Homo sapiens: one gene and its partners. The protein of the gene in region 3 purifies or fractionates together with the protein of the main gene of each other region. This does not show direct contact. Each region holds a gene or a part of one and is shown on either strand. Other genes may lie near its edges. The genes, in order: LLGL1, LLGL2, PRKCZ and NIPSNAP2.

Region 1 (6,938 bases), on a different chromosome or scaffold from region 3:
TACAAACGAGGAAAGGAGGTTACATGCACTGTCCAGCATCTGCTTCCCTCATACCCCACGTCCAGTCCATTTCTGAGCCCCATCAACTCAGTTTCAAAACACACAGAAGTCACCTCCCTCCCTGCTCCAGGCCCCACCGTCACGTGCCTGGATTGGTACTCACTACAGTCTGTTCCCACAGAGGCCAGAGGGATCCTATGAAAGCCACAGCCAGATCCTTGTCCCTCCCCTGCTCAGGATCCTCCTGGGGCTCCCAGCTAAGGGAGGCTTGTGCCTCAGGGCCTTTGCACCTACTGCCCCTCTGCCTGGAACGCACTTCCTCCAGCACTTCCTGTCGCTCAGGAGTAATCTCCTCAGAGAAGCCTCCCAAGGCCACCCTGGCTGCAGCAGCCGCCCTGGCCACACCTCTCACCCCCTCGCCCTACTTTATTTGATCCACAGCACTGGCTACCATCCCAACTACAGTCTATTTTACTTTTTTGTTTTGGCTTTTCACTGTCTCCTGCACAACTATATCAGCCACCTGAGTTAACAGGTATTTGTCCTTTTTGGTAACTACTGTTGTCCCCAGCACCTTGGAGACCTCACACACAGTGGGGCTCAGTATTAACAGAGAAGGCACATTCCACAGGCGATGTGTGGGCTGGACTGGGATTTGAACCCAAGACTCAGAGTCCAAAGTCCCTGCTCACTCCTGACCTGTCTCCCACCCCCTAAGCTCAGGAATCAGGGGCCTATTCCCTAGCGATCACCTATTACCCACTTAGGTGACTAAGTCCCTTCCCCAAGACCACCCCACTTTCCACCACTGCTGCCCACGCTTCATCCTCAGCGGAGGGCCCTTACTTTCCGCCACCCCAAGGCTAGCCAGAGTGGGCTGAGCTTCACCCCCATCTGTCTCCAGCCCCCACTGCACACCCCAATTCACTGGCTGAAGAAATGACATTTAGGCCAGGCATGGCAGCTCATGTCTGTAATCCTAGCACTTTGGGAAGCCAACATGGATGGATAGATAGCTTGAACCCAGGAGTTCGAGACCAGCCTGGGCAACATGGTGAAACCCCATCTCTACAAAAAATACAAAAACTAGCCGGGCATGGTGACACGAGCCTGTAGTCCCAGCTTCAGGAGGCTGAGATGGGAGGATCACCTGAGCCAGGGAGTTGTGAGGCTGCAGTGGACTGTGATTGTGCCACTGCACTCCAGCCTGGGTGAGAGTGAGACCCCATTTCAAAAAAAAAAAAGTGACATTTAGCCCTGTGCCTGTTGCTGCCTTTCCCTGAAGGGCCATTCTCCTCTCACCTCACCCTCACAGCCTCCCCGGCACAGAAAATAGGTGCCATCTGGGGACCACGGAGCACCAGCTTCCCTTCTGGGCCCCTCTCAGGTTCCTAGCAGGTTCTCAGCCACCGTGTGAGGGTCCTGGCAGCTCTCATCGGCAATCACTGCAGACCTAGGCAGGGAAACCCTGAGACATCCCAGTGCCTCCACTACTCCAGGTCCAGCCGTCCCAGAGCCTCCTCCAAGACAAGTGTCTCCTCAAGGCAGCCCAGGGCGCCTGGCACAACACTGGCCCAGGACCACAGCAGCCCCTTGGAAAAATCCCTGCCCCTCAAGGCTAAAATCCAACCCCACTGACACAAGAACTCAAGAAAGATATTGGTGCAGCTCACTCTGACTCCGGGCAAGCCGTCACCCCTCTCAGAACCTCAATTTTCTCACCTGTATTTTGAAGATAACTCTAATTTCGAAGAGCACTGAGAGGCTCTGCCATCAGTGGGCTCTGGGGTAAGAATGAGGACAAAACCAACGTCCCCAGAGCAGTGAGCCAGGAGTGGGCTGAGGCCCTGCTCTAACATCAGTGCAGAGGGAGGCGGGGGCTGAGGCGGCCCCTTTCCCTGGCCCCTAGTGTCCCACTCCGGGAAAGGAAGGAAAAGCCTCCACCTCACTCCACCTTGGTGCAGAAAGGCAGGACAGCTGGCCCATGTGGCAGAGGGAGCCAGGGCCCACAGTATGGAGAAAAGTAGCCTCATTTCACAGCTAGGGAAACTGAGGCCCCACGATGCGAAGTGCAGTGTAGTACACAGCCAGGCATGTCCCCTGGACTCGGAGCCCCGGGCAGGGCAGAGCAGGGCAAGGCAGAGCCTGGAGCAGTGGGGGAAGGAAGGAGAGGCTCCTTGAAGGGATTTCCCAGCCGCACCCCCCACAGCTGCCTCGCCCCCACTAACTCTCTCACCCTCCTGGGTGCCAAAGCACAAAACAAACCGGGCCCCAGGGCTGTCCCAAGGGCCGAGCAGGGACGCAATGGAGCCCCTAAGAAAAAGGATAAAGAGACAGAAGTGAGCGACAGAGGTCGAGAGACTCCACAGAGACAGAGAGAGAGACACGCAGGGAGAGACAGGCAAAGAAGACTCAGAGACGCACAGGCAGCAAGAGAAATGAGAGGCAGAGAGATAAAGGGAGACAGGCAGAGATAGGAAGGGGCAGAGGCAGAGACACCCCCACCACACACACAGGCACAACTGGGGCGAGACAGCCGGTCAGCGGCGGAGAAAGAGGGACAGAGACCCAGAGACAGGCAAAGAGTCTCAGAGACAGACCCCCACACACACAGACTGGCAGAGCCAGGGCCAGAGCGGCCCGCAGAGACTCGGGGAGCAGACACGGAAAGTCGGCCGGAGACCCAGACCCACCCAGAGTCCGAGCCAGAGCGGGGCCCGCCGAGGGGGTGCGCGGCCCGGCCCGGCCCCGCCCCGCGCCGCGCTGCATGCCAGCCCCCGCCCCCCGGGCCCGACGTGGCTCCGACCCCGGGCCCCCAGCCCAGGCCCCCGTCCCGCCCCCTCCCGCCCGAGCCCGGGCCCGGGCCGCCGCCGCACCTTGTTGAAGGCGAAAAGCTCCTGCTTGAGCTTCTCGCGCTGCGGGTCGGCGCCCTGCCGCCGGAACCGAAACTTCATCATCTTGCGCCCGGCTGCAGGCGCCTCGCCCGCCGCCGCCGCCCGCAGGATGCGCCGCGCGGCCCCGCGGGTCCTAAGGCGCGGGCGGGGCGCCAGGCGGCCCGGGCGCGGGCGCGCGGGGCCGGGCCTGCACGGGGGTGGGCGCCGGGCGCGACGGACGCGCCGCCCGACCAGTGAGCGAGCCCGCCGTGCCGCCCGCCCCGCCCCTGTTGGCCAGACAATGGTGAACTGGGCCCCCGGGCTCGGCCGGGCTCGCGAAGGGACGCCCGCCTAGCATGCGCCGCGGCGCGGGGCCTGCCGGGACTTGTAGTCCATGAGCCGGGGCTCCAGCGCGGGCGGCTGGGGAAGCGCTTTGGAGGGGGATTGGCGCACGTTCCCGGGCTTGGAGGAGACTTTTTCCTCCTCCCAGAGAGCGAGCGACGTGCCCACTCATGTAATGGGGCAGCCCTGTTCCGAAAGCCAAGACAGCTCTGACTGGAACAACTCCCTGGCCCCTCTGCGCCTCAGTTTCCCCATCTACACCATTGGTCAAGTGATTGCCAAGTTTATATTTTACCAATTTCACAGAACTCCATTTCGTCTGTTCCCCGCTCTGTCAGAGCACCTCCCACCGCCGTGCTTTTGCCTTGGCTTTGTAGTCAGGAATTCTTTCCTCACCCCCAGCCCCTGGGGAACTCCTACACATCTTTCAGGACCCAACGCAAAAGGCTCTGTGTCACAGCACAGGGGATTCTTTCTTAGCCAAAGAAAGAGACGGGATCCCCAGGAGGTGGCATTTGGGACTGTTCTGGGGTTGGATTGGAGCTTTACGGAGATGGGGGAAGGACCTCCCCCCGCAGAGAACAGCGTCTGAACAAAGCTTAGCCCTGCCCCTACTCTCAGGGGCCGTCTGCCTGTCCCCACCCACCTCCCAGGCCTTTTCTCATCTGGACAATGGCCTCGAGGCTGAACCTTTCCTTCCAGGCTGAGGATAGGCCGCCTGGCTCAGGGCTGGGGCTGCGGGAGGTCCTAGAAGCTTAGGTGGGGCAGGTAGGACAGGCCCCAACCCCACCAGCTGTGTCCAGGGAGCAGGAGCTGACCTCTGAGCCCGAGGCGGCTGCCAAGCCTTGGGGCCTGGCTGTCCCCCTCCACCCACGCCAGGCCGGCGGTGTTCAGCCCTTCCCCGTATTTGGGGCTGGATCCGGAAGAGGGCCCAGGAGTGAGTGAGGAGGTGAGAGGAGGGAGAATGACGACAGTAAAGCCCCTAAGTGTCTACTGCGGGGCAGGCGCTGTTCAAAGCCCTTTCCTGGTTTCAGCTGACTTAGTGCTGTCAGTAGCTCTACGAGGGAGCCAACAATATTACCCATCCCAAATGAGGAAGCTGAGACCATCAGCCAAAGGCTGTTAGTTGTTGGCAGAGCTGCTGGACTGAGGAGGATGAGACCCCTTTGGCCACTGGCCACGCCACACCAGCACAGGCAGCAGGGACAGCTCAGAGGTCTGGGTTCTGGTCCCTGCCCTGCCTCACACAGGAAGTGTTAAGAAGTTGCTGGCTGGGCGCGGTGGCTCATGCCTGTAGTCCTAGCACTTTGGGAGGCCTTGGAGGGAGGATCTCTTGACCCCAGGAGTTTGAGACCTGACTGAGCAGTAGGGTGAGATCTCATCTCTACAGAAAAAAAATAAATAAATATTTTTTTAATTAGCTGGGCATGGTGGCCCAGCTGTAAATTCCAGCTACTCAGGAGGTTGAGGCAGGAGGATGGCTTGAGCCCAGGAGGTTGAGGCTGCTGTGAGCTGTGATCGTGCCACTGCACTCCAGCCTGGGCAACAGAGCAAGACCATCTCGAAAAAAAGGCCAGGAGCAGTGGCTCACACCTGTAATCCCAGCGCTTTGGGAGGCTGAGGCGGGCAAATCACTTGAGGTCAGGAGTTTGGGAAAAACCCAGTCTCTACTAAAAATACAAAAAATAGCCGGGCATGGTGGCAGGTGCCTGTAGTCCCAGCTACTTAGGAGGCTGAGGCAGGAGAATCGCTTGAACCCAGGAGGTGGAGCTTTCAGTGAGCCGAGATCATTTGCTCTCCAGCCTGGGCAACAAGCGTGATAAATGAAAAAAACAAACAAACAAACAAAAAAAAAACGTTGATTCACATTCCCACTTTACCATTTGGAAGCTATGTGACCTGGAACAAGTTACCTCAAATTCTCTGTGCCTCAGTTTCCTCATCAGTAAAAATGGTGATAATATTAGTATTTACCTCAAAGGGTTGTTGTGGAGATTAAATGTGTCAGGGTAATATGAACCAGAGCAACTCCATCTTGAATAGGAGGTGGGTAAAATGAGGCTGAGACCTACTGGGCTGCATTCCCAGATGGTTAAGGCATTCTAAGTCACAGGATGAGCTAGGAGGGGGTCGGCACAAAATACAGGTCATAAAGACGTTGCTGATAGAACAGATTGCAGTAAAGAAGCTGGCCAAAACCCACCAAAACCAAGATGGCCACGAGAATGACCTCTGGACATCCTCACTGCTACACTCCCATTAGCGCCATGACAGTTTACAAATGTCATGGCAACGTCATGAAGTTACTCTATATGGTCTAAAAAGGGGAGATATGAATAATCCACGTTTAGCATATCATCAGGAAATGACCACAAAAATAGGCAACTTGGCCGGGCACGGTGGCTCACGCCTGTAATCCTGGCACTCTGGGAAGCCGAGGTAGGTGGATCACCTGAGGTCAGGAGTTTGAGACCAGCCTGACCAACATGGAGGAACCCCATCTCTACTAAAAATACCAAATTAGCCGGGCATGGTGGCACATGCCTGTAATCCCAGCTACTCGGGAGGCTGAGGCAGGAAAATTGCTTGAACCCGGCGGGCGGAGGTTTCAGTGAGCCGAGATTGCACCACTGCACTCCAGCCTAGGCAACAAGAGTGAAAATCCATCTCAAAAAAACAAAGGACAACTCTGCCTATGGAGTAGCCTTTTTTTCCTTTTTCTTTTCTTTTTTCTTTTTTTTTTTTTGAGATGGAGTCTTGCTGTGTTACCCAGATTGCAGTACAGTAGCACTATCTTGGCTCACTGCAGCCTCTGCCTCCCAGGTTCAAGTGATTCTCCTGCCTCAGCCTCCCAAGTAGCTCGGACTATAGGCATGCGCCACCACACTCAGCTAATTTTTGTATTTTTAGTAGAGACCGGGTTTCACCATGTTGACCAGGCTGGTCTTGAACTCCTGACCTCAGATGATCCGCCTGCCTTGGCCTCCCAAAGTGCTGGGATTACAGGCATGAGCCGTTGCACCCGACACCCAATCTCCATTTTTCTTTTTCTTTTTCTTTTTTTTGAGACAGAGAGACAGAGTTTCACTCGGTCGCCCAGGCTGGAGTGCAGTGGTACAATCTCAGCTCACTGCAACCTTTGCCTCCCAGGTTCAAGCGATTCTCCTGCCTCAGCCTCCTGAGTAGCTGGGACTATAGGTCTGTGCCACCATGCCCAGCTAATTTTTTGTATTTTTAGCAGAGACGGGTTTTCACCGTGTTAACCAGGATGGTCTCGATCTCCTGACCTCGTGATCTGCCTGCCTTGGCCTCCCAAAGTGCTGGGATTACAGGTGTGAGCCACCGCACCCAGCCAGCAGTCCCCATTTTTCAATGGGACTTGGTTATTAGGCAGTAAGCAGCCATGCCTTTCCCAACCCCTATCTCACAGTTTTTTGGGGAGCAGGGCAACAGAACTGAGTCGAGACCACAGCTAACCATAGCTCACCGTCCTATGATGGGGCATGCACTGGGGCTGTGGGAGCCCAGAAGAGGCATCTGGCCCAGGGTCAGTGTCCTGCTGGGAGAGGACAGTGCACATGGGTTGTAATGGGTAAGGAGTGTACCTAGTGGAAGGAGCCAGGGGATAGGCAGGGAAGAGTCTCATGGCAAACGGATTCGCAAAGTGTCAGTACCCCCACCCCACAACACACACACACTTGTTAATTCAGATTCTAGGTCCTG
Region 2 (7,022 bases), on a different chromosome or scaffold from region 3:
AGTGTCAGTCCCCACAGGCACAGATCCCTCTAGCTCATGCCACATCCACATGGTAGACCTGTGCTTGGGAATCTTGCTCCGAGAAGTTCCCCAAGAAACTGGGTGAGGCGAACCCTGCTGTGTGGCTTTGGACAAAGCCTTTACCCTCTCTGGCCCTGGAGTTTGCTTCAGAATTGAGCAACCTGCACCTGAATCCAGGAGGCACTGGGGGTGGGCCCTGCCCGGCGGGTGAAACACTGACCGTAAGGCACGAGGCTGCGGAGGGGCTCTGGTTGCTGGGCTTCGCTGGACACGGGCCACTGGCAGTAGCTGCCGTCAGAGTGACAGCTGACGAGCAGGCGGCCGTCCCGCTGCCACCAGATGTTCTCCAGTTGCTATGGAGGAAGAGGAGAGGGACAGAGGGCAGCACGCTGGACCGAGGCGGCGTTCCCATCGCCTGCACCCCATGCCTCTGCACAGTGTGTATGTGCCACTTGGGGCCCTGGGAGAGCAACATGGCGCCTGCCATGTCCTGGGCACTGCCTACCTGGCTGCTGAGGAAGTGGTAGAGCACGCGGCTGCCCTGTAGGTCCCAGATGACAACGAGGCCTCGGCTGTAGCCGATCAGGATCTGGTTGGGGTCTCGAGGGTGCTCCTGCAGTGCCTCCACCATCTCGAACACACGCCGGTGGCGGGCCTCCTCTGGCAACCTGGGCGAGGGGAGTGCCGTGAGCCTCCGATGCCGTCCACCAGGGGGAATGGCCCCCAGCATGGCACAGCCATGGGGCTCCCTATGCAGAGGTGGCTGCTCCATGTGCCAGCATAGAAATATGGCTAGGGGCTGGGCGCAGTGGATGGCCGAGCGTGGTGGCTCATGCCTGTAATCCCAGCACTTTGGGAGCCCAAGGTGGGCAGGCCACTTGAGGTCAGGAGTTTGAGAGCAGCCTGGCCAACATGGCAAAACCCTGTCTCTACTAAAAATATAAAACATTAGCTGGGCGTGGTGGCACATGGCTATAACCCCAGCTACTTGGGAGGCGGAGGCGGGAGAATTGCTTGAACCCAGGAGGCGGAGGTTGCAGTGAGCCGAGATCGTGCCACTGCACTCCAGCCTGGGTGACAGAGTGAGACTCCATTTCCAAAAAAAAAGAAAGAAAGATGGCTAGGACATGTCACCAAGGGGAGAAGGGCAGCATGTAGAACAAGACAGAGACATGGACACAACCTCCAGTGATGTAAACACAGGCGGTACAATTATAAGGCAAGGCAAGGCAGTGACTTCTGGAAAAGTCAATGTGGGGGCAAGAGGGAGCCTTGACTAGGAAGGGTGCATAAGACCTCCGGAGGGCATCAAAGTTCTATTTCTATGCCCGGCAGGAAGGCTGCAAGGATGCTCTACAAGAATCTGTTAAACTGTACATTCATATTCAGTGCATTTTTGCAAAAGGGAGTGTTTAATAATAAAGAAGTTTTTTAGCCCCATAAAACAAAACTCTGTGTGAGTTGGCCTGGCCCTGGAGCCTTGACCCCTGCCCCGTCTCCAGGCCTGGAATGCTGCCGTGAGGGCTGGAGGTGTTGCAGCCAACAAAAAAACCACAAGGCAGCAGGCACAGGACCAACAGCCAACAGCAAGGATGTGGGAAGTGGACCCAGCCTGGACCCAAGCCACACTAAACCCAAGCTCTCCACATTATCTATATCTGGCACATCTACTGCTAGCACTGACCTCACTGACATTAGAATTTGAATCAAGAGTGAGAGTTGAAGGGGACTTTAATATTCAATATTTAATTTTTTTTTTTTGAGATGGGAGTCTCGCTCTGTTGCCCAGGCTGGAGTGCAGTGGTGTGACCTCGGCTCACCACAACCTCCACCTCCGGGGTTCAAGCAATTCTCCCTGCTCAGCCTCCCGAGTATCAGGGATTACAGGCACCCACAACCATGCCAGGCTAATTTTTTATACTTTTAGTAGAGACGGGGTTTCGCCATGTTGCCCAAGCTGGTCTCGAACTCCTGATCTCAGGTGATCCACCCGCCTCCGCCTCCCAAAGTGCTGGGATCACAGGCGTGAGCCACCGCGCCCGGCCTAATTTTTAATCTTTTTAGAGACAGGATCTCATTCTGTCACCCAGGCTGGAGGGTAGTGACCTGATCATGGCTCACTGCAGCCTCCAACTCCTGGGCTCAAGTGATCCTCCCACCTCCCAAGTAGCTGAGACTGCAGACGTGTGCCGCCTTGCCCAACTAATTTTTATTTTTTGTGAGGAGAGACAGGGTCTTGCTATGTTGCCCAGGCTAGTCTCAAATTCCTGGCCTCAAGCAATCCTCCTACCTCAGCCTCCCAAAGTGTGAGCAACTGTGTCCATCTAGATATTCTTAATAAATGCAAATAATGTCCTTACACAGATGAAAATTGTTAGACAATTAGAGGGCTTCCAACTTTTTGCCATTAAAAACAGCCCTACAATGATCATTCTTATCCTATATCTTTAGGACAGAGACTTCTCAGAGACAGTTATGAGACTAAAGGGTTGCACGTTTTAAAAACTTAGATAAGTGTCATCAAGAGGACGAGAATTTAAACTGCCAAAAGGGGCTGGGCCTGGTGGCTCACACCTGTAATCCCAGCACTTTGGGAGACCGAGGTGGGTGGATCACCTGAGGTCAGGAGTTCAAGACCAGCCTGGCCAACATGGTGAAACCCCGTCTCTACTAAAAATACAAAAATAAGCCGGGTGTGATGGCGTGCACCTGTAATCCCAGCTACTCGGAAGGCTGAGGCAGGAGAATCACTTGAACCCAGGAAGCAGAGGTTGCAGTGAGCTGAGATCTTGCCACTGCACTTCGGCCTGGGACAGAGTAAGACTCTCTCAAAAAAAATGTTTTTTCTTTGTTTTTTTTTTTTTTTTTTTTTTTTTTTTTTAATAAATAAACAAACTGGGCCAGGCGCTGTGGCTCATGCCTGTAATCCCAGCACTCTGGGAGGCTGAGGCGGGTCAATCACCTGAGGTCGGGAGTTCGAGACTAGTTTGACCACCATGGAGAAACCCTGTCTCTACTAAAAATACAAAATTAGCTGGGTGTGGTAGCGCATGCCTGTAATCCCAGCTACTCGGGAGGCTGAGGCAGGAGAATAGCTTGAACCCAGGAAGCAGAGGTTGCAGTGAGCCAAGATCGTGCCATTGCACTCTAGCCTGGGGAACAAGAGTGAAACTCCATCTCAAAAATGAAATAAAATATAATATAATATAATATAAATAAACTGGCAGGAGGGGCTCTCAGGGCACTTGGGCCCCCCCGCCGACTAGATTCCCGCCAGCTAACTACAGGGTGAGGCTGGGCACTGGTGTGGCCACCTGCTGGGGCGCAGGTCCCATGCCGTCCTGCCCACAGGCTGTGTCCCACTGTGGTACCTGTCATCCTGCAAAGTGTTCTGCTCTGACCTTGGACACACTGCCCCAGCCCTACCCTGCTGAACGGGAAAGGCAGAGGTCTGCACTCAGAGGGACACAGCTCCAAGTGGGAATCCTCCCAGCCCAGTCATGCCCTGCCCTGGGCAGACGGGCCCTGCTTCATCACCACCCAGGGCTGGAGAGCTGGGCTGGCCAGCTGCAGGAGTGTGTCCCAGGCCCAGTCCAAAGCCTTGCAGGGCCAGGGGCCCAGCACCCTGGCCTCCTCCTGCCCCTTGGAACCACAGATCATTCCACCATGACCGACCCGGCCCCAACATGATCTTGTCAGATGCTATCTCCTCTCTTTTTTTGGGCCCCGTCCCCTTCTCCCACCCGGACCTGATCCAACTCCCTCTCTAATGTAGTATCATCAACAAGGAGCAAAGCTTCTGAAACGATCTCAACAGACCCACATGCCTGTGGCGGTCAAGGCTTTTTAGCCACGGAGCTTGCGAGCAAATGGAACCTCAGCAAAGTACCCACCGCAAAGGGTGGCACCAGGAGCTGCCCCAGTGACACAGGGAGGTCTGGGCCCGACTTCCCCGCTGCGGAGCCCCTGGGGTTCTGAAACCCATGGCAAGTGCAAAGGACACTGGACTGACAGTCGGTGACATTACACAGTCATTTGGGGCCTTTAGACGAGGGACCCTCAAAGCCCCCTTTTTAGTGCTATGATGCTAACCTATGACAGGCCAATAGGTTCTCAGTAGGTGACAGGTAGGAAGCCAAGAGCCTCCCCTGCTATAGCCCCATGGAATTCCCAGCAGAGAAATGACAGCTCCTGACAGAGTCCTGGGACCAAGGGGAGAAGCCATGCCTAACTTGAGGGGATGGAGTTAACAGCAGCTGGGCTCTGGGCTCACCGCTGCAGCACCGCGTCCGAGCTGATGGTCCGGTCCTCCAGCGCACGAAAAGCTGGCAGCTGCACCACAAACACGTTGCCACTCTCGGTGCCCAGGTAGAGCAGCTCGCAGGAGGAATGTGGCAGGACCACGGTGATCTGTGTGGCACTGGGGGCAGCCCTGTGACAAGAACAGCTGCCCGTGAGCCGACCACTGCCCAGCAGGGGAGATGCCATGGACGGGGTCCCCTGACTCCTCGGAAAACAAGCCCATAAGGCCCTTTAATGAGGTCATAACATTTCAAGCCAGGACAAACATTGGTCACTTTCTGCCAAGACAGGAGACAGATGGCAGAGAGCCTGGGCTAGGAGGCAGGAAAGACGCCAGGGACCCTCCAGCATAACACGGGGTGCGGATGGAGGAGGCGGGGTGCAGATGGAGGAGGCGGGGTGCGGATGGAGGAGGCGGGGTGCGGATGGAGGAGGCGGGGTGCGGATGGAGGAGGTGGGGTGCGGATGGAGGAGGCGTGGTGTGGATGGAGGAGGTGGGGTGCGGATGGAGGAGGCGGGGTGCGGATGGAGGAGGTGGGGTGCGGATGGAGGAGGCGTGGTGTGGATGGAGGAGGCAGGCTGCAGCCCCGCCCACTCCACTCGGAGCACCTGAGTGTGGCGATGCATCGGGCCAAACGCATGCCAGTCACTGCCAGGGGCGCAACAGGCCTCACAAAGGGTGAGTCCACTCCAGAGCTAAGGGCAAGGGTCAGGCTGGGCTGGGAGTGGAAGGGGCTGGGGATTGAGCCCTTACCCTGGGGGTCCACGCAGTGTGAAGCTCTCATCCTCCTGCAGCTCCGATGCCCCGCCCTTGACCTTCAGGCTCCAAAGGTGCAGGCTGTTGTCATCCAGCAGGGTGACCAGCTGGCACTGGCGAGGGCACACGACGGGATCATGTGGTCTTGCTACCCAGGCAAGGCCTTTACACACTGGGGCCACGCAGCCCCAGTTGTTTAAAAGACCCCCTGGCCACTCCCAGGGTGGCCCATGAGCCCCAGCTGTGGAAAGGGAGGGGGTCCCAGGTCTTTCCATCAGCAGCAAACCCAGGGCCACCGAATGCCAGCCTCTCCACACCAGCCCTGCTGGAAGCAGTGAAGGCAAGGAGGGCATGGAAGTGGCTTCCTGTCCCACCCCAGGTCCCTCACCTGGCCGGGCAGGAGGTGGATCTGCGTCACAGCGTTGTTCTCCTGGTGCAGCCCCATGAACTCCACGCCTGGGGCTCCGTAGCTAGGAGTAGGCTCAGGAAAGCTCTGGAAGGTCGGACACCATCCCCTGCCTGCCTTGAGTGCCAGGCCCTCGGGGCCCATGTGCAATGATGCAAACACAGAGAGGGGCTGCCCTCCCCCGAGGCAGCAGGACCCATGCATGGAGCCTAGGGTGGGGAGGAGACACAGCAGCCCTGGCCCTGGGGCACCAGGCCAGTGACCTGATCCCTGGGAGATTTTTCCCAGTCAGGCCGGTGGGAGCAACTCCATAGAAAGGCGAAGCCCTACCCTGGCAACTGTCAGGCTGCCACCCTGATCCTGAGCTGCAAAAGACATGTTGGCTGTCGCTTGGTAGCACCTGTGAAAAAACACACGGCACCCCAGGGGGCCTATCACCAACAGCCTTGGCCCATTAGTCTTGGCACCAGGGATTGGTAACTAGAGTCTGGCTGTGGCCTGGCAATGATTAACCAGCCGAGGGAAGGCTGAGCCCGCAGCAAGGCCCTGGCCCCCTGTGTACACCAGCCCAGCCTGGAACTCGAGTGCTCCATACCCCTCCCCCACACCGGGCAGAGGGGAAGAGGGAGGTCAGGCTCCGCTGGAGGTGGCAGCCAAGCTATTGGAGGTGGTCCCTCATCTCTCAACTCCCTTGGGCCCTGCCCTGAGGGGAGCACAGATCAGACTGGCGGGGTGCCCAACCTGATCCGGTTTTTCATCTCTGAAAACACTGGGAGCCCCCAGTCGGCCAGAACCAGTGCTCTGGATAAAAGATGACCCAACTGGACAACATCCAGCCTCAGGCCGGGGAAGGACTGTCCCTGCCAGGCAGAGCCCTCTCCACTCTCTGCCGCCTGTGGGAGTGGGGGTGGAATTTGGAAGACAGCTGCCGAGCCCTGCTCTCCTGGCCCAAGGCCACCCCATCTCTGCTTGTGGATAGGGCCCTGGGGCCAGTCCACCTCTGATTCTTATCGAGATAGGTTAAAAAACAAAACTGCAGGCTGGGAGTGCAGTGACTCATGCCTGTAACCCTAGCATTTTGAGAGGCCAAGGCGAGAGAGTTGCTTGAGCCCAGGAGTTCAAGACCAGGCTGGGCAAGATCACAAGACCCTGTCTCCACAAAAAAAAAAAAAAAAAAAAAAAAAGTTTTTGAGACAGAGTCTCACTCTGTTGCCCAGGCTGGAGTGCAGTGGCACAATCTTGGCTCACTGCAACCTCTGCCTCCCAGGTTCAAACGATTCTCCCATCTCAGCCTCCCAAGTAGCTGGGATTACAGGCATGTGCCACCACGCCCTGATAACTTTTAAAATATTTTTAGTAGAGACAGGGTTTTACCACATTGACCAGGCTGGCCTTGAACTCCTGACCTCAAGTGATCTGCCCGCCTCAGCCTCCCAAAGTGCCGAAAAAAATTTTTTTAAATTAAAAACATCCCTAGCGACAAGAGGGGTCCCTGTAACTTGCTTTTCTGGTGGTGAGGTGGGGAGCTGAGGGAGG
Region 3 (7,107 bases):
CCCTGAACACAAACGTTGTCTGAGCTGGGCCAGGCGCGGTGACTCACGCCTTTCATCCCAGCGCTTTGGGAGGCCAAGGCGGGCGGATCACGAGGTCAGAAGTTCGAGACCAGCCTGGCCAACAAAGTGAAACCTCATCTCTACTAAAACTACAAAAGTTAACCGGGCGTGGTGGCGGGCGTCTGTAGTCCTAGATACTAGGGAGGCTGAAGCAGGAGAATTGCTTGAACCTCGGAGGTGAAGGATACAGTGGGCCGAGACCACACCACTGCAGCCTGGGCAACACAGCGAGACTCAAAAAAAAAAAAAAGTCTGAGCTGAAAGAGGGAAGAGCCAGCACCAGTGTTTGTGGCCCTAGAAGAGCGGGCATCTGAGACTCAGCGTGGGAGTCTGGCCCAGGCCACCTGGGACTCCCTGAAAACACAGGTGCCTGGGGACCCCTCAGGCCCACAGGGGGCGGGGTGGGGTGGCGAGGATTGGATCTCAAGTGTGCTCAGAGGGCCCTGGGAGGACAGGCAAGGATGACGGGGTGGCCATGCCCCATGGGGGTGACTGAAGTGCTCTTCCTTTTTCTAAAGACTAGTCTTCCACGTGTCCACGCTCAGCTACCCCCACGGACAGCAGCGTCTCACCCCAGGGACAGAGTTTCTAGGGCTTTCAATAACCCAGTACTCATCCTGGCAGCCGCTTTCTGGAACTGTGTCATTGCCCTAAGGCCTGAGTGTCCCACCCCACAGCCAGTCCCCTCAGAGAGGCACCGGGTGCCCAGAGGGACGAGGAGCCAGAACGGGGAGAAGGGTACTTCACACTCTGCAGCAGAGAGGAGGAGGACCTGGGAGGGGAGAGAGGAGAGAAGGAATGGTAGGAGCAGGGAAGAGCCAGAGGGGAGACGTGCCCTAGAAGGGGGAGGAAGGTGAAGGAAGAGGTGTGGCAGGGAAGGGAGAGAGGGGAGAGCGGGAAGAGGAGGGAAAACAACAGGGAAGGAGGGAGGAAGAGGAAGGGGTGGGGAGAGAGGGGAGAGAGTCCGGGAAGGGAGGGAAGAGGAAGGGGTGGGAGCCTGGTCTCTCCAGCCTGGGAAACCAGAGTCACCGGGTGGAATTACACCCGCCCCACCACCAAAGTGCTCCCAGGGGCCAAAGCAAGGCAGAGGGAGGACGGGGCGGCCCAGAACTCCAGTGGCATTGCCTCCGAGCCTTGGTCCCAGGAATTGGACGCCGGAATGCAGGAGGGTCTGGGCCCCTGCAGCCCCTCGGGTGTGGACCTCCCTCTCGCAGGACTCCCCTGAGCTCCGCACCATCACCTGTTGCCCAGTGTGGTGGCTCCAGAATGGCAAGGAGACAGGAAGCCCAGGTCCCTGGACAAGTCCAATAGCCAGAACGTCAACCATACCAAGTTTTAACCTGCTGACCTCCAGGCCAAAAGACATGGCTGCCCTACCTCTTCAGGTAGGGCTGGACGGTCAGTCCCCCAGAAATCCCTTTCTTCTGGTTCTGGCACCAAACCCGGGCCACTGCACCCCGAAGGTTCCAGGTGCTTGCCACAGGGGAGCTGCAGAGGCCCCAACCTTCCCAAAGAAGAGACAATTGAGCCTCCTCAACAAACCCGGGGCCAAGCAGCCCCAGATGGCTGACCCGAGACCCCAAGACAAGGTTCGCAGGAAGCTGAACCCGCTCAGACTCGCAGGGCACCATAGAGACCCCCGGGGCACTGTCCTGAGAGGACGTGGCCCGGGGAAGTTGTCACCCGCCTAACCCTGCCGGCCGTCCCTGCCTCTGGGGCTCAGGTTGCCCACGCTGTAGCTGAGGACGCACCGGGGCAGGAGCAGCTTTTCGAGATCCCAAGGACCAGCCAGTGCAAGTCCGGAGCCCGCATTCTGCTCCCCTCCCTCTCTGCAGCAGCAGCCACCCTCGCGGGAGCGGAGGTCCCAGTTCGGGGCTCCTGGAGACGCGCACAGGTGGAAGAACAAACCCACGGGTCCTCCCCTCCCCACCGCCCACACTTCGGGGGGCAGCGACCCCTCCGCTGTGCCTGTGAGCCCGGCCACCTGGTGCAGCCCCCGCCACCCCCAGCAGCGCTGCCCCGAGGCGGCGGCCAAGAGTCCAGGACCCCTCCGCTCCAGCACCTGACCGCGCCCCCTCCCACAGCCAGGCAAGGGCCTCCGGGGGGCGGGTGCGACGCAAACCCCAGGGTCAGTCTCGGCCCCACCGTCTCCTCCAGAAACCCCTGTCCCCGCCCGACCGCCCCGAGCCCTGCCGGGGGCTGCATTGGAGCCACAGCGCCCGCGCCCCGGGTCTCCGGATTTTGGCTAAAGCGAGACCCCCGACCGGGTAAACGTGGAGAACGTTTAGGAAACGCTGATTTTAAGAAACCCGCCAGGAGTTTTCACAACTTGATGAAAACTTTCAGTCCTTACAGGTTTGCGGCCGGAACGTCCCCGCCCAACTTTCCAGCGAAAACGTCTACCACAATGACCGGGCCGAGGAGCTCGCGGCGCGGGGCCGACCCCAGGGAAACCCGGTCCCGGGGAAGGAGCCCGCGCTGTCCACGACGTGTCCGCGGGTGACGCTCACGGGCGGGGACCGAGGACCTCCCGCGACAGCCCCGGGCCCGCAGCGACCTCGCCGCCCCTTCCCTCTCTCCCTCTCGCGCAGGAGCCCCGACGGCTGAGCCCTCCCCGCCCTCCCTGCCTCACCCGCGCCGCTCCCCGCCCTCTCCGCCGCTCACCCCCCGTAATGCGCCTTGAGGCGGACGCGGCCGCCGCTCCCTTCCATCTTGGGGCCGGTCCTGCTGGGCATGGCGCGCTCCCCCCGCCGCCGTCAGCGCTGCGCCCCGGGAGCTCCGGCCATGGCGCGGGGCGGGGGCTCCAGGTGGGGCCGCGGCGGAACGCGGAAGGCAGCGCTCAGGACCGACGGCGCCGACCCGGTCAACTCCGCGGAACTCCGGCGGCGCGCGGGGCGGGAGCGGGGGGCGCGCGGGGCGGGACCGTCCGGCGGGGGCGGGGGGCGGTGTCCGAACATGGCGGACCGAGGTGGAGCCAGCGGCCAATCCGCGGGGCGGGCGGTCCCGGGGCGGGCGGTGGCACCTGCGGCCAATGAGGGCGAGGCGGGGCCGCCACCTGGGCCAATCCTCGGGGGACACCCGGCCGCGGCCCAATGGCGAGGCGCGGGCGGGGCTACCTGTCGGGCGGGGCTACCTGTTGGGCGGGGCGCGGCGCACCTGCGCCAATGGGACCGCGCGCGGCGCGGCTCTGCCCGGCAACCGGAGGGGCCCCGGCCTCTGGGACGGAGCGGCGCCCCCGGGAACTCGCTGGAAACGCGAGTTCTCGGCCTTCGCCCAGACCCTCCGAATCGAAACTCCTGCGGCGCGCGCTGCCAGCCCGAGGGCCCCGCCGTCCAGGGGTCCCCTGACATCTCACACTTGCGGACTGAAGCTGCGAGGAGCGGAGAACCCGGCCAGGGTCACGGACGGGAGCGTCCGGACTCGGGTTCTCTGGGCCCCAGCCCCCACTCCGCCCCCAGCGAATCCAAGGTCCCCTGTAGGGAAGGGCCGTCCACACTCGTGAGTGCAACCGCTCACTTCGCCCAGGTCAAGGACGCGGCATTGGCCCGAGTCGCCCATGACCTTCATTTCTGAAGCCACAGCCTCTCGGGCCTTACTCGAGGGGCTTGATCTGGACAATCGCCCTCCAGGCCCCTCCACCGCCGCCCAGCTCCCTGCCTCCTGGGCTCCTCCCCTGAAAATACGGTTTTCCCTGATCAGCCCATCCCTTACTGGCTGCATCCACTGAAGCCCAGACCTGCTGCCTGCAGGACCTCACCCAGGCACCAGGTGGACACCCAGACCCAGTTCCTGGCCTCGGCCCCTCTCCCCTGAGAGTGGACCTGCTCAGGCCACGCCCTCACACCCCTCACCCAGACACAGCCACCAGGACTTCAGCCACGTGCTTTCATCCCGCAGGTCGTGCCTGGCGCCTCCTTGATGCCAGGCCCTGGGGAGACCTGTGGCCACAGAACCCATGTTCTCCCTGGAGATGGACAGGAGGCCCCTCTCCTACGCAGAAGCTGTCGTTTTTTCTTCTTAAACACCGTTTGCCCCTCCCTCCACCCACCGAGCCATCTCTGCCCCTCTCTACAGCAAAGCTTCCGCCAAGCCGGCCCTGCTCCCTGTCTACCTCTCCTGCCACCACCCACTCACACGTTTTAAATACAAGCCGTCGGTTCTCAGACGTTTTCTCTTTTTTTCTTTCTTTTTCTTTTTTTTGAGATGGAGTTTCGCTCTTGCTGCCCAGGCTGAGTGCAATGGCATGATGTCGGCTCACTGCAACTTCTGCCTCCTGGGTTCAAACCATTCTCCTGCCTCAGTCTCCCAAGTAGCTGGGATTACAGGTGTCCACCACCATGCCCAGCTGATTTTTGTATTTTTAGTAGAGACGGGGTTTTTCCATATTGGCCAGGCTGGTCTCGAACTCCTGACCTCAGGTGATCCACCTGCCTTGGCTTCCCAAAGTGCTGGGATTACAGGCGTGAGCCACTGTGCCCGGCCTCAGACATTTTCTTAACTTGGCCTTTGGTATCAGACCCCTCCTGGGAAGGCTCACACATCCCTGGCCCCGGGTTCCAGCTCCCTAAATCTCCCATCCCTCGCCCTCCTGGTCTGCAGCTTTTAAAACTGTGGAGCCCCAGCCTCAGCCTTTGGCCCGCTTTGCATCCCCAGCTCAGATGGGCCCCCTGAGCTCCCAACCAACACTCACCCAGCCCCAGGCATCCTCCTAATGAGCCTCTCAGCTGACGTCTTCCCCCACTCCATCTTTCTGGGTCATCGAAGTCCCCCCAGTGGTTCCCATCACTCCTGGAGGGAAGGCCAGCTCCTCTGCCCCGGCCTCGAGGCCTCTTTGCTGCCCCGGCCTCCGTCTTTGCACGGCCACTCCCTCTTTGCACAGCCACTCCCTCTTCCAGGAGCACCTGCCTGCAGAGATCTGCTGGACTGGCACCCACACTTCCTTGAAGTCTCTAGCATACCTAATGCCCATTTCAGCAATCTACTCCTCACCCCCATCTCCATGGGGCAACCCCCTCTATCCCTCGCACAGGCACAAAGCCCCATGCCCATCAGCTGGGCATGAAGGGGGGCAGAGAGTAGAGGGTGAGGGGGCAGCCTGGCAGGGTACAGTGATGAGTGGGAACCTGCACCTGCAGCAGCCCTGGATTCAGGCACCCGTCGGCCCAGCTCCCCCACTCCAGGCCCCATGGCCAGGGCTGTGGCCTTGTCTGGAGTCTGGCCTGGCAACATGGCCTGGGCGCTTCCTGATGGGCAGGAAAGAGCAGGGTTTCACCTTAGTGGGGCGGTGCCTGGAAGGGGCCACTGGGCACCCACAGGACTTCCTGGCTGGCGTTCTGATCCAAGGAGGCAGCAAGGCCCGGTCCTTGATACCACTGCCCACAGCAGGCAGGACGGACCCTCGGTTGTGTCCTTCCCTGTCACTGGACATCTCTCCCTGGGCCTGCCCCACCCAAGGCCCCGGAGGACCCTTTCTAACCAAGGACGCCCCTGCTGGGTCAGGCCCTCGGCACTGGCCTCCCTGGGGAGATCTGTGCTGCCAGGCGGGAGCCTCCGTCCTGGAAGCCAGTCCCAGGGCCGTGGCAGTGCCCCAGTCCCAGCGAGGGAAGGTGGGGGGCGGGGCTCTATTCTCTCTGGGGTTGGGAGGGAGAGGGCAACGTCAGTGGATGGTCAACCCCAGTGTCAGACTTTGTTCAGCCCTGATGCCGCCGGTGGAGGGGGGGTCGGGACAGACACAGGTTCCGAAAGGCTCTAGCAGAGGACTGCGGGCACAGGGGCTGCCCAAAACGTCCCCAAAACCTCCCCCAGTACCTGCTCTGGCCTCCCCTCCAGGAGGCAGAGGTCTCCGCTAATGAGATCTGCAAAACAAAGGCCTGGGAGGCCCTGGACCCGCCTCTGGGCAGGCAGGGCAGGTCACAGGGAGGTTCCTAGGTCCTCTGCCCTGAGCCTGTGCCCCTGAGAGGGCCCTGAGGGCAGAGGGCGCTTCCTGAGACACGGATAGGCTCACTGGCTGGCGGTGGTGTCACTGTGTCGCCCGGCGACAGATACAGGGTGTTTGCTCTGGAATCTGCCAACGACTCCCATCCAGATCCCGGCTGAGGGCTGGGCCCTGTTAGGCCGGGTCCCCACAGCTTCTCCAGGCACCTGGCACACGGGGAATGAGTGAGTGACTCGGGTAAGGACCCCTCAAGAGTGCTGGAGCCAGGCAGCCTCCTAAGACCCCTAGTGGGTGGGGACAGAGTCATGTCCCATCGAGCCCAGCACACCGAGAAGGCACAGCCCTGGAAGCTTCCAAGGACTCACCCTGGGTCCTCCGGGGCGGGTGGGGTGTGGAGGTGACCCTTGGAGTGGGCAGGGCAGGCTCCGAGAGAGGCCTCTGGGTGGCTAAAGGCCAGGCTTTTCCACCTCAGCAGTTTCTGTAGCTCCCAAATTTTTCATAAAGTTCTCATATACTTTCATAATCATAAACACCTATTATTTTTTAAATGAAAAAAACAAGTTATGAAAGTCACACTGACTTTTTATAAAACTCAAGCAACACAGAACGGTATAGGGCAAGGTGAAGCCTTTTCCCAAAACCCCAGCTAAGCAGCAAGAACCCCGGCCGTGAAGCGGACAGCCTTCCCTCTCCCAGTGCAGGCAGCCTTCCCTCTCCCGGTGCCTGGGACCGCAGGTGGAGGTGCTAGGTGACCGCTGGGGCTTGGGGTAGGGTGCTGACCGGCAGAGGGCAGTGTGGCTGCAGGGTCTGGCTGAGGGTGGCCTCCCAGCAGGGCTGGGGCACCTGGGAGCCGCAGCTCCTGACCCCGCCAAGGTGGCTCTGTGTGGCTGCCGGGCCTACCCTGTGATTTTCCTTAGGAAGAGTCCTTTGATGATACTGTCGAGTGATGTTGAGACCTTTTAGAAGAGAGGCAGTTTACACTCAGTGTGATTCATCGGACGTCTGGGAGGGGTTGGCTGTGGCCCGTGGGGTCCCCATCACCACACCCCCAGGAGGAGGCCTCCCTCATCAGCCTCTTAAACTGCATTTGTGCTGGCTTAGTGCTTGGGACT
Region 4 (7,022 bases), on a different chromosome or scaffold from region 3:
ATTACAGGCGTGAACCACTGCGTCCAGCCCACATGTAATTTCTGAGGGACTACTAGACTATTTCCAAAGTGGCTGCACCATTTTACATTCCCATCAGCAATATCGGAAGGGTCCACTTTCTCCTCACCTCACTAACACGTTATTATCTATCTCTTTTAAGTTACAGCTGTCCCAGTGTGCAGGAACTGGTATCCCATTATAGTTTCACTTTGCATTTCCATAATGACTAAGAAGGTTGAGTCCCTTTCCATAAGCTTATGGGCATTCATGTATTTTCTTTGGTGAAATCCTATTCAAATCCTTTGTCCGTTAAAAAGTTTTAAAATTTATTTAAAAAAAAATTTTTTTTTTGATACAGGGTCTGTAGCCCAGGCTGAAGTGCAGTGGCACAATCTCAGCTCACTGCAACCTCTGCCTTCCAGGTTCAAGTGATTCTCGTGCCTCAGCCTCCCAAGCAGCTGAGATTACAGGCATGTGCTACCACACCTGGTTAATTTTTGTATTTTTTGTAGAGATGGGGTTTCACCATGTTGCCCAGGCTGGTCTCAAACTCCTGATCTCAGGTGATCTGCCCACCTTAGCCTCCCAAAGTAGCTGTGAGCCACTGCACCTGGCCTAAACATTTTTTAAACGTATTTTTTATTGTGGTAAAAAAAACACGTTAACATTGAATTTACCATCTTACCCATTTTTATGCAGTGTCCAGTATATTTACACTGTTATGCCACAGATCTCCAAAACATTTTCATTTTGTAAAACTGAAACTCTATACTCAATAAACACCAATTCCGTATTCCCTCTCTGCCCAGCTCCCGGCAACCACCTTTCCACTTTCTGTTTCTATGATTTTGGCAACACTGGATACTTCACATAAGGAGAATGATACACTATTTGTCCTCTTATTTCACTTAGCATTACATCCTCCTCAATGTTCACCATATTGCAGTATAAGACAAGACTTCCTTCTTTTTTGGAGGCGGGGGATGAAGTCTCGCTCTGTTGCCAGGCTGGAGGGCAGTGGCGCGATCTCAGCTCACTGCAACCTCCACCTCCCGGGTTCAAGTGATTCTCCTGCCTCAGCCTGCTGAGTAGCTGGGGCTACAGGTGCACGCTACCACGCCCAGCTAATTTTTGTATTTTTAGTAGAGACGGGGTTTTGCCATGTTGGCCAGGCTGGTCTCAAACTCCTGAGCTCGGGTGACCAGCCTGCCTTGGCCTCCCAAAGTGCTGGGATTACAGGTGTGAGCCACCGCACCCAGCCCACAATTTCTTTATCCATTTATCTATTGATGGATATGTGGGTTGTTTCTACCTCTTGGCTACTGCAAATAAAGCTATGATAAACATGGGTATGCGAATCTTTTTGAGATCTGCTTTGAATTCTGTTGGATATATATCCAGAAGTGGGACTGCTGAATCACACTAATTCCATTTTCAATTTATTTTTTATTTTTGTGAGACAGGGTCTCACTGGGAGTGCAGTGGCATGATCATGGCTCACTGCAGTCTCCACCTCCCCAGGCTCAAGCAATCCTCCCACCTCAGCCTCCTGAATAGCTGAGACTACAGGCATGTGCCACCACCACGCCTGGCAAGTTTTTTTTTTTTTTTTTTTTTTTTTTTATAGAGACAGGGTTTCACCATGTTGCCCAGGCTGGTCACCAACTCCTAGCATCAAGCGATCCTCCTGCCTTGGCCTCCCAAAGTGCTAGGATTACGGGTGTGAGCCACCACACCCAGCTGCTGTCTTTTCAAATTCTTTACCCATTTTTTAATTGAGTTATCTGTATTCTTATTATTGAGTTGTAAGAATTATTTATCTATTCTGAATTCAATTTGCTTATCAGACATATGATTTGCAAATATTTTATTCCAGTATATGACTTGTCTTTTTAATTAAATTTTTTTTTTTAGTATCACTGAAAGTAAGGCAATTTTTTGTTTTGTTTTGAAACAGTCTGCTGTCACCCAGGCTATAGTGCAATGGGGTGATCTTGGCTCACTACAACCTCTGTCTCCCAGGTTCAAGTGATTCTCCTGCCTCAGCCTCCTGAGTAGCTGGAACTACAGGTGCACACCGCCATACGTGGCTAATTTTTGTATTTTTAGTAGAGACAGGGTTTCACCAAGTTGGTCAGGCTGGTCTCAATCTCCTGACCTCAAGTGATCTTCCCACCTTGGCCTCCCAAAGTGCTGGGATAACAGGTGTGAGCCACCATCCCCGCCCTAATTTTTTATTTTTTTGAGACAGGGTCTTATTCTCTCCCAGGCTGAATAGTAGTACAATCATGGCTCACTGCAGCCTCCACCTTTAAGGCTCAGGTGATCCTCCCACCTCAGCCTCCCGAGGAGCTGGGACTACAAGTGTGTGCCACCATGCCCGGTTAATTTTTGTATTTTTTTGTAGAGTTGGGGTTTCGTCATGTTGCCCAGGCTGGTCTCAAAGTCTCAAACGTCTGGGCTGAAGCAATTCTCCTCCTTCAGCCTCCCCAAAGTGCTGGAATTACAGGCATGAGCCATCATGCCCAGTCTTTATTTTTATTTTTATTTTATTTTTTTGAAAAGGAGTCTCACTCTGTCACCTAGGCTAGAGCACAGTGGTGTGATCTCAGCTCACTGCAACCTCTGCCTCCTGGGTTCAAGCAATTCTCCTGCCTCAGCCTCCCAAGTAGCTGGGATTACAGGAGTGCACCACCACGCTCGGCTAATCTTTATATTTTCAGTAGAGATGGGGTTTTGCCATGTTAGCGAGGCTGGTCTCGAACTCCTAACTTCAGGTGATCTGCCCACCTCAGCCTCCCAATGTGTTGAGATTACAGGTGTGAGCCAACATGCCCGGACTTTTTTTTTTTTTTTTTTTTGAGACAGGGTCTCACTCTGTTGCCCAGGCTGGAGTGCAGTGGTGCAATCTTGGCTCACTGCAAACTCCATCTTCTGGGCTTAAGCAATTCTCTTACTCAGCCTCTCAAATACCTGGGACCTCAGGCATGTGGCATCACACCTGGCTAGTTTTATTTATTTATTTATTTTGGTAGAGGTTGGGGGTCTTACTATGTTGCCCAGGCTGGTCTTGAACTCCTGGACTTGAGTGATTCTCCTGCCTTGGCTTCCCAAAGTGCTGGGATTACAGGCATGAGCCACAGTGCACCTGGCTAGTCTTTTGCACTTCTAAAGCCTGCTGGGAGTTTGATAGGGATTCTGCTGAATCTACATATCAACTTGTGGAAAAATTGTTATTTTTCTACTCAAACTAGCAAGGAAAAAAAGAAGAAACCATTATTGACATGGTGTGTATATATGACAAAAGTAACGTTTCAGAAAAGATGATATCCAAGAAGTATGTAAACTAACCTTATGCAATATTGGTTTTGCTTTTAAAAAAAAGGTGCTTATCTTTTAGAAATATATATAGTACTGAAATATTTATGAATGAAATAGAATGCTGTCTGGGATTTAATTCCAAACAATCTGGGTTGAAGGAGTTAGGCCTAAACAAGATTGGCCATGTGTTAATTATTGAAGCTAAGAGATGGATGTGGAAGGGGAGCCCCATTATTCTCTCTAGTTTTGTATGTTTGAAAAATCTCATAATAAAAACATCAAACGAAACATTAGTGCAGTGTTAAGTCACAGTACTATCCTCAGATTTTTTTCCCTAGAATTAACACTATGGCCTAAACTAATCTATTCACAAGACTTAAAAAATCACCATTCAGTAATATACTCACCAGTAATTGCCCCATTCAATCATGGTTCCTGGCTGAAAACAGATTTAGATTTGGTTTGTTAGTTCTTCTGTGAAAAAAAAAATACAGAAATAGCAAACAGCAGTAGAAAAAACATTAAGTGACAAAACTAACTTCAAAAAACCTTTTTTTTTTTTTTTTTTGAGACAGAATCTTGCTCCGTCACCCAGGCTGGAGTGCAGTGGCTCAATCTCAGCTCCTGAAACCTCCGCCTCCTGGGTTCAAGCAATTCTCCTGCCTCAGCCTCCTGAGTAGCTGGGATTACCGGCGCCCGCCACCATGCCTGGCTAATTTTTTATATTTTTAGTAAGAGATGGGGTTTCACCATGTTGGCCAAGCTGGTCTCAAACTCCTGACCTCAGGTCACCCACCTGCCTTGACTTCCCAAAAAGCTGGGATTACAGGCATGAGCCACCACACCCAGCCAAAACTTTACTTTTTAATTTAATAGAGACAGGGTCTCACTATGTTGTTCAGGCTGGTCTCAAGCTTCCTGGCTCAAGCAATCCTCCAACCTTGGCCTCCCAAAGTGCTGGGATTACAGGCATTAGCCACTTTAATAATGCTGCTATGTGGGGCTTTCTTTCTAGTCCTCAGTAGGAAAATTTCTAGAAAGTGTTATATTATTGCCTTTTACTCTTATCATGTTATATAATTTGTTCAACAGTCACAGTGTTTATTAGCTGCTCTCCTTTAACCACAACAGATGTTACATATTGTACCTTATCCTGCACTTTAGGTCTTTCTTCTTAAAAACAAATATGTTATTTAGAAAAATATCAAATAATAAGCATTATGTGTAAGGCCATAAAAAGCAAAAGAGCTTAGCCTTGGTGACAGTGTGAGACCCAGTCTTAAAAAAATACATATATATACATATAATGCTAGACATACATCACAGAATGTACACACAAGTTCTGTTGTCAGCCTTACAAAATGCTTGTGCTTTTTCACAGAGGAGTAAAAGGAATAACTTATATTTCTGTACTTACTCGGAGTTGGTAAGACCTGAGTTCATATATATTAGGTCCGGATCTTGGCACAGGCTCATTCCAGAAACTGAACTCCAACAGGAGCTGATTCTTCCTGGAGAGAAGCATGTCACTTCTTGCCTTACGAAATTCCAAAAATTCCTTTGAGTGAAAAAAATGTGCTCATGAAATCTTCTGATACTTACATATAAGCCCATTTCAGTAACATTGATGTTCCTACAGAATACTATAATAGGGTAATCAACAGGTCCCAGTTGGCCTGAGACAGTCCCAGTTTACATCTGTTGAGCTTGCATAATCATTAACAGCATTCCTTTTCATTCTCAAAAGTGTCCAGGTTTAGATGACAAATTACTTGGTCATCCTAATTATTTAGGTGGCAATGCAAACAAATTTAATTTGCTATATTTTTAGATTCTTCTAACAGTGTTTGATGGCACATCAATAGAAGTAGCATGCAGACTACAAAAGAGCAGATAATTCAAAACCTATTTATATTTGTCTGGGAATCTATACAAAAGAATTTCTTTCTTAATGATGTGTGGCTTTTAAATTTCTCCCTATTGACAAACACCTGCTAGTGAAGGGAGGGTGGAAAGCAAAGTCAGCCCAAGATAAACTCTATGTGTGTGACAAACAGTTCCTGAATTAGACAGTTTTAGGTCATCCAGAGCTAATTGTGCCTGCCATGCTGATTGATACACCAGTCACCAGTCTTTTGGGGGTTTTTTTTGTGTTGTTTTTTTGAGGCAGAGTCTCACTCTGCTGCCCAGGCTGTAGTGCAGCGGTGTAGTCTCGGCACACTGCAACCTCTGCCTTCTGGGTTCAAGCAATTCTCGTGCCTCAGCCTCCCGAGTGGCTGGGATTACAGTTGTGCACCACCATGCTCGGCTAATTTTTGTATTTTTAGTAGAGATGAGGTTTTGCCATGTTGGCCACGCTGGTCTCAAACTCCTGGCCTCAACTGATATGCCTGCCTTGGCCTCCCAAAGTGCTGGGATTACAAGCATGAGTTACCGCACCCAGCCCAGTCACCGGTTTCAAAGTACCACCTTATCAGTTTCAAAGCATAATTGACTTTTATAATAAGAACAATAAGAATTTTTTTTTTTTTTTTGAGACAGAGTCTTGCTCTGTCGCCCAGGCTGGAGTACAGTGGCGCAATCTCAGCTCACTGCAAGCTCCACCTCCCGGGTTCACGCCATTCTCCTGCTTCAGCCTCCCGAGTAGCTGGGACTACAGGTGCCTGCCACCAAGCCCGGCTAATTTTTTTGTATTTTTTTTAGTAGAGACAGTGTTTCACTGTGTAAGCCAGGATGGTCTCAATCTCCTGACCTTGTGATCCGCCTGCCTTGGCCTCCCAAAGTGCTGGGATTACAGGCGTGAGCCACCGCGCCCGGTCAGAATTGTTGTTTGAATAGTATTACAACTGTTTATGTTTAAATACAACTTCAGGAGTCCAAACAATAAAATTTCTGTTACAAAAAAATGAAGTTTATTAACAAAAACTGAAGACAGAAAAGTCATTTAATTCTGTACTAACATCTATATATCATTAGTCTAAGTAAACATTTTTCAATATCATTACCTTATTTTCTCTGAGTTTATTCATGACTTCTGTGAGGGCTGGATAGCCTCCTTCATACCTCCAGAGGTGGACTGAAATGCATTTTAAAAGACAGTATACGTTTAGAATTTCATGATACTACTACTTGAAAATGTTCTAGATAGGTATAACGTTAACACAGCACAAAACTGTAGGCTGGGTGTGTGGTGGCTCATGCCTGTAATCCCAGCACTTTGGGAGGCTGAGACAGGCGGATCACTTGAGGTCAGGAGTTCCAGACCAGCCTGGCCAACATGGTGAAACCCTGTCTCTACTAAAAATACAAAAATTACCTGGGTGTGGTGGTGGGCACCTGTATTTCCAGCTACTTGGGAGGCTAAAGCAGAAGAATCGCTTAAACCCGGGAGGCAGAGGTCGCAGTGAGCCTAGATACTCATCACTGCACTCCAGCCTGGGCAACAGAGCAAGACTCTGTCTCAAAAAACAAAAAAACTGTAATGCCCCATGTTTTGGCCTATGAGTTACATCATAATGGTTCAATAATAGATTCAAACATTAAAAACAATTTTAAAACCATTTTCGCAATGAATTGTTGAAGAAACTACTTTAATCATAAAATTAGACTGAGACTTGGAAAGCTTTGATGATAAGAACAAGCATTAAATTAGAAAATTACTTAAGTGTTACATAAGGCTTAAGGAAGAAGTGTTTATTCCA

The links.
Region 1: the proteins of PRKCZ (region 3) and LLGL1 purify together in Homo sapiens (affinity purification with mass spectrometry; 7 studies listed by BioGRID and IntAct, with this or other methods). This does not show direct contact.
Region 2: the proteins of PRKCZ (region 3) and LLGL2 purify together in Homo sapiens (affinity purification with mass spectrometry; 8 studies listed by BioGRID and IntAct, with this or other methods). This does not show direct contact.
Region 4: the proteins of PRKCZ (region 3) and NIPSNAP2 purify together in Homo sapiens (affinity purification with mass spectrometry; 4 studies listed by BioGRID and IntAct, with this or other methods). This does not show direct contact.

The regions. Positions count from the first base shown.
Region 1 is NC_000017.11:18,221,702-18,228,639, reverse strand, and holds the start of LLGL1 (lethal(2) giant larvae protein homolog 1), read right to left. Parts: upstream 3,006-6,938; 5' UTR 2,958-3,005; coding exon 2,877-2,957; intron 1-2,876. UniProt on the Homo sapiens protein: Cortical cytoskeleton protein found in a complex involved in maintaining cell polarity and epithelial integrity. Involved in the regulation of mitotic spindle orientation, proliferation, differentiation and tissue organization of neuroepithelial cells.
Region 2 is NC_000017.11:75,556,683-75,563,704, reverse strand, and holds part of LLGL2 (LLGL scribble cell polarity complex component 2), read right to left. Parts: intron 5,551-7,022; coding exon 5,469-5,550; intron 5,194-5,468; coding exon 5,078-5,193; intron 4,454-5,077; coding exon 4,295-4,453; intron 690-4,294; coding exon 527-689; intron 375-526; coding exon 242-374; intron 1-241. UniProt on the Homo sapiens protein: Part of a complex with GPSM2/LGN, PRKCI/aPKC and PARD6B/Par-6, which may ensure the correct organization and orientation of bipolar spindles for normal cell division.
Region 3 is NC_000001.11:2,046,319-2,053,425, reverse strand, and holds the start of PRKCZ (protein kinase C zeta type), read right to left. Parts: upstream 3,016-7,107; 5' UTR 2,796-3,015; coding exon 2,725-2,795; intron 2,671-2,724; exon of another isoform or gene 2,414-2,670; intron 1-2,413. UniProt on the Homo sapiens protein: Calcium- and diacylglycerol-independent serine/threonine-protein kinase that functions in phosphatidylinositol 3-kinase (PI3K) pathway and mitogen-activated protein (MAP) kinase cascade, and is involved in NF-kappa-B activation, mitogenic signaling, cell proliferation, cell polarity, inflammatory response and maintenance of long-term potentiation (LTP).
Region 4 is NC_000007.14:55,981,585-55,988,606, reverse strand, and holds part of NIPSNAP2 (protein NipSnap homolog 2), read right to left. Parts: intron 6,398-7,022; coding exon 6,327-6,397; intron 4,880-6,326; coding exon 4,739-4,879; intron 3,761-4,738; coding exon 3,729-3,760; intron 1-3,728. UniProt on the Homo sapiens protein: Protein involved in mitophagy by facilitating recruitment of the autophagy machinery required for clearance of damaged mitochondria.